Linked DNA regions of Homo sapiens: region 2 is linked to region 1. The links come from fine-mapping of genetic effects on gene expression. A gene starts in region 1. The other region holds a variant in brackets. All regions are shown on one strand. Distances are from middle to middle. Region 1 holds the start of ERP27 (endoplasmic reticulum protein 27). Region 2 holds the start of LOC124902885 (a long non-coding RNA gene).

The links. PIP is the estimated chance that this variant, and not a neighbour inherited with it, causes the effect. A credible set is the group of variants that fine-mapping cannot tell apart.
Region 2: its variant is the best candidate, but not a certain one, in a credible set for the expression of ERP27 in regulatory T cells (Bossini-Castillo 2019, PIP 0.63).

Annotation. Positions count from the first base shown.
Region 1 is chr12:14,936,153-14,941,533 of GRCh38, forward strand. It overlaps ERP27 (endoplasmic reticulum protein 27), which reads right to left and starts at 2,385. Exons shown (of 7, transcript NM_152321.4): 1 at 2,263-2,385; 2 at 1,800-1,900. The coding sequence starts at 2,356. RefSeq lists an enhancer at 1,841-1,900.
Region 2 is chr12:14,909,496-14,914,876 of GRCh38, forward strand. ERP27 (endoplasmic reticulum protein 27) reads right to left here. Exons shown (of 7, transcript NM_152321.4): 7 at 4,544-5,287. The coding sequence ends at 5,240. It overlaps LOC124902885 (a long non-coding RNA gene), which reads left to right and starts at 612. Exons shown (of 2, transcript XR_007063221.1): 1 at 612-898; 2 at 1,009-1,170. The variant G/GT (reference allele first, on the strand shown) is at 2,980.

The sequences.
Region 1 (5,381 bases):
TGCAAAAATATGAAATAGACGCCATCAAAAGGGCCAAAAAAGAAAAAAAGAAGAAAAATAAAACAATTAAAATGAAAGCTTAGAAGTTTTAACAAAAGTTTATGCAGGTTATGGAAGGACAGTCCCTCTCTTGCCACTGTAGATAAACCTGAGCTTTGCACATGAAGATGCTGTTCACGCATTCAACTCTGCAGCCCAGGCCTGCAGGAGGCAGCAGAGAAGCCACTTGCGAACAGTGATTCCAGGCCTTCCATAGACGCTGGCATCATTTTCCCTGCTCTCACGGGACCTTTATCCATAGCAGCTCCAGGAAATTAACAGGAACAAACATGTTCTACCCTGCAAGTCCCCAGGCTGAAGGAGGAGATGTGCAAGGAGAAAAGAAGATGGCCAGTTGATATGGTTTGGCTGTGTCCTTACCTAAAATCTCATCTTTAAATGTAATCCCCATAATCCCCACATGTCAAGGGTGGGACCAGGTGGCAGTAATGGGATCATGGGGGCAGTTTCCCCCATGCTGTTCTCGTGATAGTGCATGAGTCACAAGATCTGATGGTTTTTTAAGCGTCTGGCATTCCCCTGCTTGTGCTCATTCTCTCTCCTGCCATCCTGTGAAGAGGTTCCTTCTGCCATGATTGTAAATTTCCTCAGGCCTTCCAAGCTATGCTGAACTGTGATTCAATTAAAACTCTTTCCTTTATAAATTATCCAGTTTTGGGTATGTCTTTATTGGCAGCATGAGAAGAAACTAACATACCCGTCTTGCATCTGGGGTCAAGCAGAGGGAGCTGGTATCTACTCTTCTAGAGGCCATGAACAATAATTAATTGAGGCCTCCTCTCTTATTCTGCTCCTTCAGATGGAATTGCTGGAGGATAAAATGATGGCATCTGGCGGCTGTTTAAGTTATTGCACACTCCTCCAATTCCATGCTCTTGCCCCTTCCCCATCTTTCTGACGGTGTTTTTGTCTACAGCTCAGATTTCTCATTCCTGAAAAATGTTGTCCCTGTCTTTCTCCCTGACTTGCATCTCATTGCAGTGATTTCCAACTGTGTACGCAGAACTGACAGGGTAATCAGGAGTTGTAACTGAGAAATGGAAACAGACAAGAAGGTCTGCTATGAGAGAGTAGGGGCTTGATCAGCTGTGAGGATTTCCAGATGCTACCACCAGAGAAAGATGAAAATGCTGGAATGAGGCAGTCTCATTTATGGCTGCCTTTCTTAGTCAAGAAGCTAATCTGGAAGATGGAGGTTAACACCTTGAATATACAAAATGCCATCATTTTCCAACATTTCAGACAAGGCAAAGAGAAAGAAGGAGAGTCTACCATATTTGGGGGAAAGGCTTTAAAAGGCTGTGCACTGACTAATGTCCAGGATGTTTGGCATCCTGTAAACAGTGTTGCTGGATGATATAAATTGGGTTCACTCTGGCCCCTGCCTATTCATAGGGTGCTATGAGAGTATAGACCAAATGTGTTTAGGACAATGGTGGGGTTCCATGAAGGCATTCTTTCTGCAGATACTGACTTGAGCTTCAAAGCATCCATAGATGAGGAGATGCAGCCCACAGGCTCAGAACTCTTGAAGTAAGTATGAGAAAGATATAATTTAGAGACTGGGAATGTCTTGAAAATAAGAGGTCCCAATGGACAAGATGAAATCAAACTGGGTGGCTGTCTCCCTTTACCCCCACTTCTAATGCAGTGCCATCTGCCAGCAGCAGGTGGCTGCTGTGGTTCCCTTAAGGTAGAACATTTCTGGCTCTTGGGGGAATTGCAAGTAGGGAACTAACCTGGAAGAAGCCTATGACAGCCACCTCAGTGGCAGCAATGAATTCCATGGCAGCTGGGACATCTGTGAGCCACGTGGGTTCCTGGGCAGCACCAGGACCATCTAGAGAGAGAAGCAGAAGATGTCAGGGTACTGAGGCAAGAAGAAGCAGCTCTAAATAATGAGGGCATCTATACCTTTTATCTCTATACTAAGGGCAAGAAGAGCACAATTTATAGGAGTACTGTTGGCATTCCAAGGCATAATATTTTTACTAACATATGGAAGGTGACCCTACTGATGGTCTGTCTCTGAAGGATACTGCCAGACTTCCCTACTCTCTACCAGGCAAAATGCACTTATCCAGGATTTCCTGGAAAGCTTTCTAGGTGTGGAGGAAAAGTACCCAGAGAACCACCATGCTCCCTTTCCTTCTCCTAATAACACTTTCACACTATAGCCACCCAACTACATTTTTCTTTTACCTGAGGATTTCTCAACTTCTGCAGCAACTTCTGCAGCCAGCTCACACGTGAGGAGAAATAAGAGGAACATGAACCTGGACGGGGCAGCTTCCATTGTCCCTCTCCTGCTCCTGCTCCAACCCTGGACTTTGTGTTGGGGAGGCCGACTCAGGGCAGCCTACTCTGTAGCTGATTGGCTGTGGGGTTGTTAGGGCTTTGGGAACTTTGCAGCTGGCTCCAGGGGAGCCTTCAACTTCTGAGATAAAAGACCAAGGTTAGTAATAGGGACTCAGAACATATCCAACCAGAAGAAAGTCAGGTCAGTTTATTTAAATAAAAAATGTAAATATGCTATGCCAGGCATTGATCCTAGCGCTAAGAATAGAAAGATAATTATGATCTGATCCAGCCTCTGCCAGCTTAGATTATCAGTGGGAGAGATGGGCAAGTAAAAAGATTATTTAAATATAAGATGGAAAGTGATATAGAAAAATTCATAGGGTGCTATGACAATACATATTAAGGGTATTAGGGACAATGCTAGGGTTCAATGAAAGTGTTCTTCCTGCGGAGGATGCCGGAGCAGAGTTCTGGGTAAGTAAGATTTTGCCAGGCAACACAAGGTAGAAAGGGAGTTTCATGTAAAGAACTAAAGCACAGGCCGGGCGTGGTGGCTCATACCTGTAATCCCAGAACTTTGGGAGGCTGAGGCAGGTGGATCACGAGGTCAGGAGATTGAGACCATCCTGGCTAACATGGTGAAACCCCATCTCTACTAAAAATACAAAAAATTAGCCAGGTGTGGTGGCGGGCGCCTGTAGTCCCAGCTACTCGGGAGGCTGAGGCAGGAGGATGGCCTGAACCCGGGAGGCAGAGCTTGCAGTGAGCCGAAATAGCACCACTGCACTCCAGCCTGGGCGACAGAGCGAGACTCCGTCTCAAAAAAAAAAAAAAAAAAAAAAAAGAACCAAAGCACAGATATGCAAATATAATGTGTGACAGAATTACTAGTAATTGAGAATGATGAAAAGGAAGGAAGTGATACATGTGGACAGAAAGGCATGTTGGGACCAGCTCACAGCAGGCTTTATATGATACACTAAGCGCGGGAGCATCAATTTTATTCTGTAGGTGATGGGAACCACTGAAAAGTCTTAAGCAGAAGAATGAGATGAAGTTTGATTTTGCTCACAAGTGTCTGAGGAAGTCCAAGATGAGATTTCCACAGGCATTGGGATATGTAGTTTTAAGCTTAGGAGAATTTTCATGTGAAAATATTACAAAAGAAATTAGGAAGCCCTAGCCAGGGCAATTAGGCAAGAGGAAGACATAAAAGGCATCTAAACAGGAAAAGAAAAAGTCAAACTATTTCTCCTTGTTGACAATATGATTGTATGCCTAGAAAGCTCTGAAGACTCTGCCAAAAGGCTACTGGAACTGATGAATGATTTCAGTAAGGTATCAGGAAAAAAATAAGTGTACAAAAATTAGTGGCATTTCTATACAGCAATAATGTCCAGGCTGAGAGTAAAATCAAGAACACAATTTCATTTACAATAGCTACAAATAAAATGAAATGCCTAGGAATACAGATAACCAAGGAGGTAAAATATCTCTACAAGGAGAAATACAAAACACTTTTGAAAGAAATCAGAGGTGACACAAATGAAAAAACACTCCATGCTCATGGGTAGGAAGAATCAGTATCTTCAAAATGGCCATACTGCCCAAAGAAATTAACAGATTCAGTGCTATTCCTATCTAACTACCAACGTCATTCTTCACAGAATTAGAAAAGAAACTATTCTAAAATTTATATGGAACCAAAAAAGAGTCTGACTAGCTAAAGCAATCCTAATCAAAAAGAACAAAAACAGAGGCGTCACATTACCCAACTTCAAACTATACTACAAGGCTACAGTAACCAAAATAGCATGGTACTGGTACAAAAGCAAACACATAGACCAATGGAACAGAATAGAGAACCCAGAAATAAAGTCATATACCTACAACCATCTGATCTTCGACAAAGTTAACAAAACCAATCAATGGGGAAAGGATTCCCTACTCAATAAATGGTGCTGTGATAGCTGGCTAGCCATATGCAGAAGAATGAAACTGCACCCTCATCTTTCACCATATAAAAAGTTAACTCAAGATGAATTAAAGATTTAAGACCTCAAACCATAAAAGTCCTAGAAGAAAACCTAGGAAATACTCTTTTTGACATTAATCTTGACAAGTAATTTTTGGCTAAGTCCTCAAAAGCAATTGCAACAAAAACAAAAATTGACAAGTGGGACCTAATTAAAGAGGTTCTTCAGAGCAAAAGGAACTATTGATAGACAATCTACAAAATGGGAGAAAGCATATGCAAACTATGCATCCAACAAAGGTCTAATATTCAGAATCCATAAGAAACTTAAACAAATCAAGAAGCAAAAAACAAATAACCCCAATAGAAAATGGGCAAAGAGCATAAACAGATACTTCTGAAAAGAAGACACACAAGAGGCCAATAAGCCTACAAAAAATGCTCAACGTTACTAATTATCAGAGAAATGCAAATCAAAGCCAAAATGAGATACAATCTCACACTAGTCAGAATGGCCATTATTAAAAAATCAAAAAACAACAGACACTGTGAGACTGCAGAGAAAAGGGAATGCTTATACATTATTCATGGGGATGTAGCTTAAGCAGTTACGTAGTTCAGCCACTGTGGAAAGCAACTCTAAGTAATGAGGACATCTATACCTTTTATCTCTACAGTAAGGCCAAGGAGAGTACTCCAATTTTTAGGAGTAACGTTAGCATTCCAAGGCATAATATTTTTACGAACGTATGGAGAGTGACCAGTTTGAAGATTTCTCAAAAAACTTGAAACAGAGCTACCATTTGATTCAGCAACCCCATTACTATGTATATATCCAAAGGAAAGTAGATTGTTGTACCAAACAGACATGCACATGTATGTTCATTGTTGTGCCATTCACAATAGCAAAGACACGGAATTAATGTAGTTGCCCATTAATGGTGGATTGGATAAAATATGTGGTGCATATATACCATGATATACTATATGGTCATAATAAAAAAGTAAAATCATGTCCTTTGCAGCAATATGGATGAAGCTGGAG
Region 2 (5,381 bases), 27 kb before region 1:
TAGCATTGGTGCAATAACTATGATGGTATAAAAGGAGATACAGTTCTAGACATGTGTAGTGGATGCTGTGGTGAGCCGCACAGATCACCCCAAAGTCATTAGCTTCTCCCAGCTCTGAGTATGTTGACAGCTAAGAGCTCTTAGATGAATCCCACCCACCAACCAGCCCAGAAATCTCCCTCTGCTCAAATGAGCCATCTTGCCCACGAGCATGCACCTTTCCTATGTGCAGCTTGCAACATCAGATGTTCAATGTTGGGGTATAGAGGCCTGGGTCTCATTCTCCAATTTGGGGTACTCTACAAGGAAACCTCAGCACCAAATATCCACATGGGATAATCTAAGCCTTTGTTGTGACTGCATCGCAGCCTAACTTATATTTCTGTGGAACCCTACTTTCTTTATTTCTTCACAGATCCCCAGACGCTCCCCAATAAACTCCTTGCAATGGAATTTAGTTGCAGAGTCTTCTTGGAAAACATGACCCGTAATACAATGTTAATTTTAAAATTAACAATTTTAAAATTGTTACTTCACCACAGCTTGAATTATGTCAAACGTGCTCTATTTTTTCTTCCTTAAGTGTATGCTAACACCATATTACCATTTTAAGACCAGTGGGCTAATGTAGAAATTAAATCCTGCTATTAAGATTTAGTGAAATTGTTTGGATAATTAAACATTAAAGCCTGGATTCCACACAACTTTTCATAAACTATAGAAGTGGCTTAACACCCTCATCCTTTACTCACACATATCCTTCCACCCCTAGTATGACTCAGATATTTCATTGTCAAGGCCACAAAAACAATGACTTCTTGTTCCAGAACAGAAAGAAAAGAGAGACCTATCTTAGAAGTGATTCGAAGGAGGGTGAATCACCTTCAAATTTACAGAGGTATGATTTTAAAATTCACTTGCTTCTTTGATTTCCAGAGTACCTTTTTTCCAAAAGTTCAACACTCAAAAGGTGTTCGTGTTTAACTTTCTCCTTTTCCAATTCTCTAGGTCTCGCCATGTAAGGTTTCTGCAATTAGGAGCCATGAGTCAGATCCATCCCACTTCCAGTCTTACTTTTCTCTGTTTAGAAAACCAGATATTTTCAGAAAGGTGAAATAAATAGGACTGGTTCCAAATTCAATTGTGAAATAAAGTTAGCTTATGATGGTTGTGGACTGTTTCCTTTGTGGCTCCTCCTCCCCCAGCTCTGGGGCCCCCTCAGCCCACGGCCAGCCTCCTGCCCAGTCCCCTCCACAACATACCTCTTTCTTTGTGTATTGCTTTCCCTGTTTGGCTGCTTTCTGTCCGTGACTCAGAACCATTCTGGTGGCTTCCATGTTGCCTGTTGTCACTACAACTGAAAAGTCTCTGTTCTATAGCTCATCATCCAATCATCACCAATTGCTCTCTCTCTCTCAGAGGGCAGCTTTGCCTGCCACACTCATAGTTGTTTAATGAATATTTAAATGAGTGAATGAGTATATAAATAAACTACTCTCTCTCAATACGCTACATAGCCCTCATCCTACCCCTGACTGCTCAAGGTATATGTGTATTAAGATGGGCCTGATGAATGCAGCCTTCCCTTCTGGCATGACCCAATAGGCGAGGAAGGACAGGAATCCCCTGACAAGTGGACGTTGGGGCTGTTTTACTATGTATTTCTAATGCTTTGACATCTGGGACTTTGCTTACCTTGGAGAGATTGCCCCTCCCTCCTAGAGATAGCCAATTCCTGGAGATAGTAATAAACTCACCTGCTAGTATAGCTTTTATATGCAAACCAACCAGTCCAGAGTCCATACCCCAACTATCTCCTTACTGGACTCTCATGGGGCTCTCACATGCTGGGCTACCACCCAGCCACTCCACCCAGGGCCAGGTTCCAGGCAACAAGGGAAAGCTCCTATGCCCCAGAGCCTGCTGAAATTATCGAAACCAGCCAATCCTAAGCCTCCTTACCCTCCTAACCCTTTCCCATTTCTTCCCATGGAGACCATAATAAAGGCCCTTGTCATTTCACCTTTACTCCTTCTGCCTTCTGACTGACCCTGATACTTCCCTATGTGGCCCTGCACAGCATGGCATGCTGCCTCCTCTTGGGAACTGTGAGTAATAAACTATCTTTCAAATGGCTATCTTTTTTGATCTGTTGGCCACCCCATACCTAGAAAACAATAAAAGCTACATTTAAAATCTGTTATCTCAAATACTTTTTCAGCCTCAAAGAAACAGCCTGAATGAAGTCTCTGCCTTCCCGTAAGTTCTAACAATTAGAGAAATGATTATTTCCCAGAGAAGGCAATGTAGTATTAACTTAAGAGAAAAGTAATAGCCAAACTTTACTTAATAGGGATTATCACCCTGGGATCTCAAGCAATCCTAATAATTATTACATTAACCTTAATAAACTAAAGTTCAAAGATAAAAGTAATTTTTCCAGTGTCATAGAGGCACATACATAGAATAGGTGAGACTCAAACCCAAACTTTCCAGTCATTCCTTTGAATCCTGCTTCAGTCCCGCTCCTTCCATCATAGTCTTCCAAATATGTTAACATCTTTTTCAAATTTATATTGTATAATATTATCACTTCCTTCGTACTCTAAAGAAAAAGTATGGCAGTCTTGTCAGTGAGGGCCATTGAATGATTCCACAATGAAAAATAGCTGAGATGTATCCAGACATCTCAACAATAACATAGCCCTGGGGAAATGGATGTAGACCTGGCAAAAGATTCTCAAGACAGAGAAAAAATTGCAGATGTTTATAAGATCTGATTTTTTTTTTTTTTTTTGAGACAGAGTCTCTCTCTGTTGCCCAGGCTGGAGTGCAATGGCAGGATCCAGGATCTCGGCTCACTGCAACCTCCACCTCCCAGGTTTAATCGATTCTCCTGCCTCAGCCTGCTGAGTAGCTGGGATTACAAGCCTGCACCACCATGCCCGGCCAATTTTTTTTTTTTTTTTTGTATTTCTT[G/GT]TTTTTTTTTTTTAAGGAGAGACAGGGTTTCGCCATGTGGGTCAGGCTGGTCTTGAACTCCTGACCTTGTGATCTGCCCGCCTTGGCCTCCCAAAGTGCTGGGATTATAGGCATGAGTCACTGTGCCCTTCTAAAGATCTGATCTTTAATAAATGGGTGAATCTTTACAAATTTCTTCTTTCTGAAGTCCCATTCTTTGGTTATGAGACCCCCGGAGCTACAAAGAACAGGACTGCCTATGAAGAAGACCGGCAAAAGTAACTGGCAGTTATGAAGAACTACAAGATGAGAAGGAAGGATTCACTTCAATATTATACACATACAAATAAGTATATAAAATAATATAATAAAATTGTTATTGAATGTCAGCAAGTAGAAAAATGCATTGTAAAGATGTTAAGACCCATGTGGTCCATTTTGATTATTGTTTTTGAGGGGAACACTTCAAGAAAAATAATTGAAAAATTAGCACAATATCAAACAAAATGTAGCTCATGGGTCCTACTATAGTTTGGGTTCCAACTATTTTAAGCAAGAAAGAGGAAAAGTTGGGAAAGAATGAGGCGAGAAAAACAATGAAGTAAATCAAATGATAAAAACCAAATGATGAGAGTTAGATTGTGAGTATGGGGGAAAGATGGCTAGATAAAGGGGCTTCAGTGCAGCCAGCAAGTGGTTAAAGGCATGGTTTGAGGAGGGCATCTGGAAGCTGTTAAGAATTTCCACAAAGGGTGGGCAAGAAGAAATAGCTTCCATGGCCAGAGGACCTCAGCTGGATATCAGGAAGAATTTCCTGACCGTAAATGTCAAGAGCTCTCGTTTACAGGATCCAAAGGAGCCTTCTGGGATGTGCCTATCTTAGGAATATTTTTCAGCCTCAAGCGAGAAGCTGTTTGGGTGGTTTTCTGCAGCCCTGGGTTGGACTGTGTGACCTCCACAGAATACCTTGGTCTCGTTGCTGAAGGGCACGCCTTACACTGGGGCTTTCACAGTGTGGTTGCCAGCAGCTGACTCCCGCCCAGGGGCTGTGGAGTTTTCCCCACAGAAAGAACAACTGAGCCTTTCACTCCCTGTTCCTCACTTGGACCAGTCCTTAGGTACATCTGTGGTTTTTCAGCTCTTCAGCACTTAGGCACTTTCCTCCTGAGCCAAGGGCCTCCTGGGAACAATGCAGCATCTGTGTGTTGATAGTAACAGCCTATGGGCCAGAGTCACTCAGCCAAGCTCTCCTTTCACCACACAGGAGCTGGATCACACACCTTACCTGCAATAATCCAAGGCTTAGTCAGCCTCAGCCCGTCCCACTGCCAGTGCCCTGCTTCTCCTATCTGCTCCCCAACCTTTCACCTAATTTGCTTCCTAGCTCAGTTGCCACATTTGTTCCAATCCTCATGCAGGATGGTCTCTATTTTCCACCCATCCCACCCACAGAGTGAACAATAACATGTTAGTGGCTTATGGTCTGACACTAAACAGTGGGCACTGCAGAGGGAGGAACATGCTGCTTAGTTGGGCAGCTGGGTATTTACAAAAGGTTTGGCCTGCAAAGAGATGCCAGCCTTTCTCCTATAACATGATTGCCTTTTATTTATTATGCAGGTTGTTGATTTACATAGGGAGTTGGAGATGCTAACCAAGCATGGAGTTTTCACATGGTCTATTTCTGCTGAGTTCAGGGACTTGGAGACAGCCTTTAACTTCTGGCAAAAAGACAATTTCACAAAGGTGTTTAAAACCATCCTTTGGTTTTTGATCCTGAGTCAGAGACGGACATGTGCTTATGAAAGAAGGTAGAGTTTCAACCCTTAGGTAACCTTAAAAGAGCAGGAACTATGTTGTGTGTAAGTCATGTGCAGTATACAAACTTGATATTAAATGACAAATTGGAACAATCTTTCTCTAGGAATGCCTCTCTTTCATAGAGGCATCACAGTGAGTCTCTTAAAGCCTTGATCTAGGTGTGTTACAGATGGGCTTACAGAGTATGAATGCACGATAAGAAGGAAATTGGATAGGGAGTGAGGATATGAAATTTAAAAGAAGGAAGAAGAGAAAACGAGATTTTAAGACAGGAAATGAAGCTCTGTGTGTGTGTGTGTGTGTGCGTGTGTGTGTGCACGCGTGCGTGCGTGTGTGCACGTGCGTGTGTGTGTGGTTGGCAGGCCTAGTGATCCTGTTGTTTAGTGTCTCTGAGATTTGAGTTGTGCCTTTTTACTTTGCATAAAGTAGATACTTGGCCATATGTAGTTCCAAGGAGAAGTCAGAGTTCCACCTTTGGAGTCTTTCCTTCTGATTCACGATTTTCTTTCTGGAAAACATTATAACAATGATATTTAGATTAGTAAACTGAGCTGTTTACTCCTGGAAGTCCTAAATCCTTCTTTAATTTTTATCTCATGAAC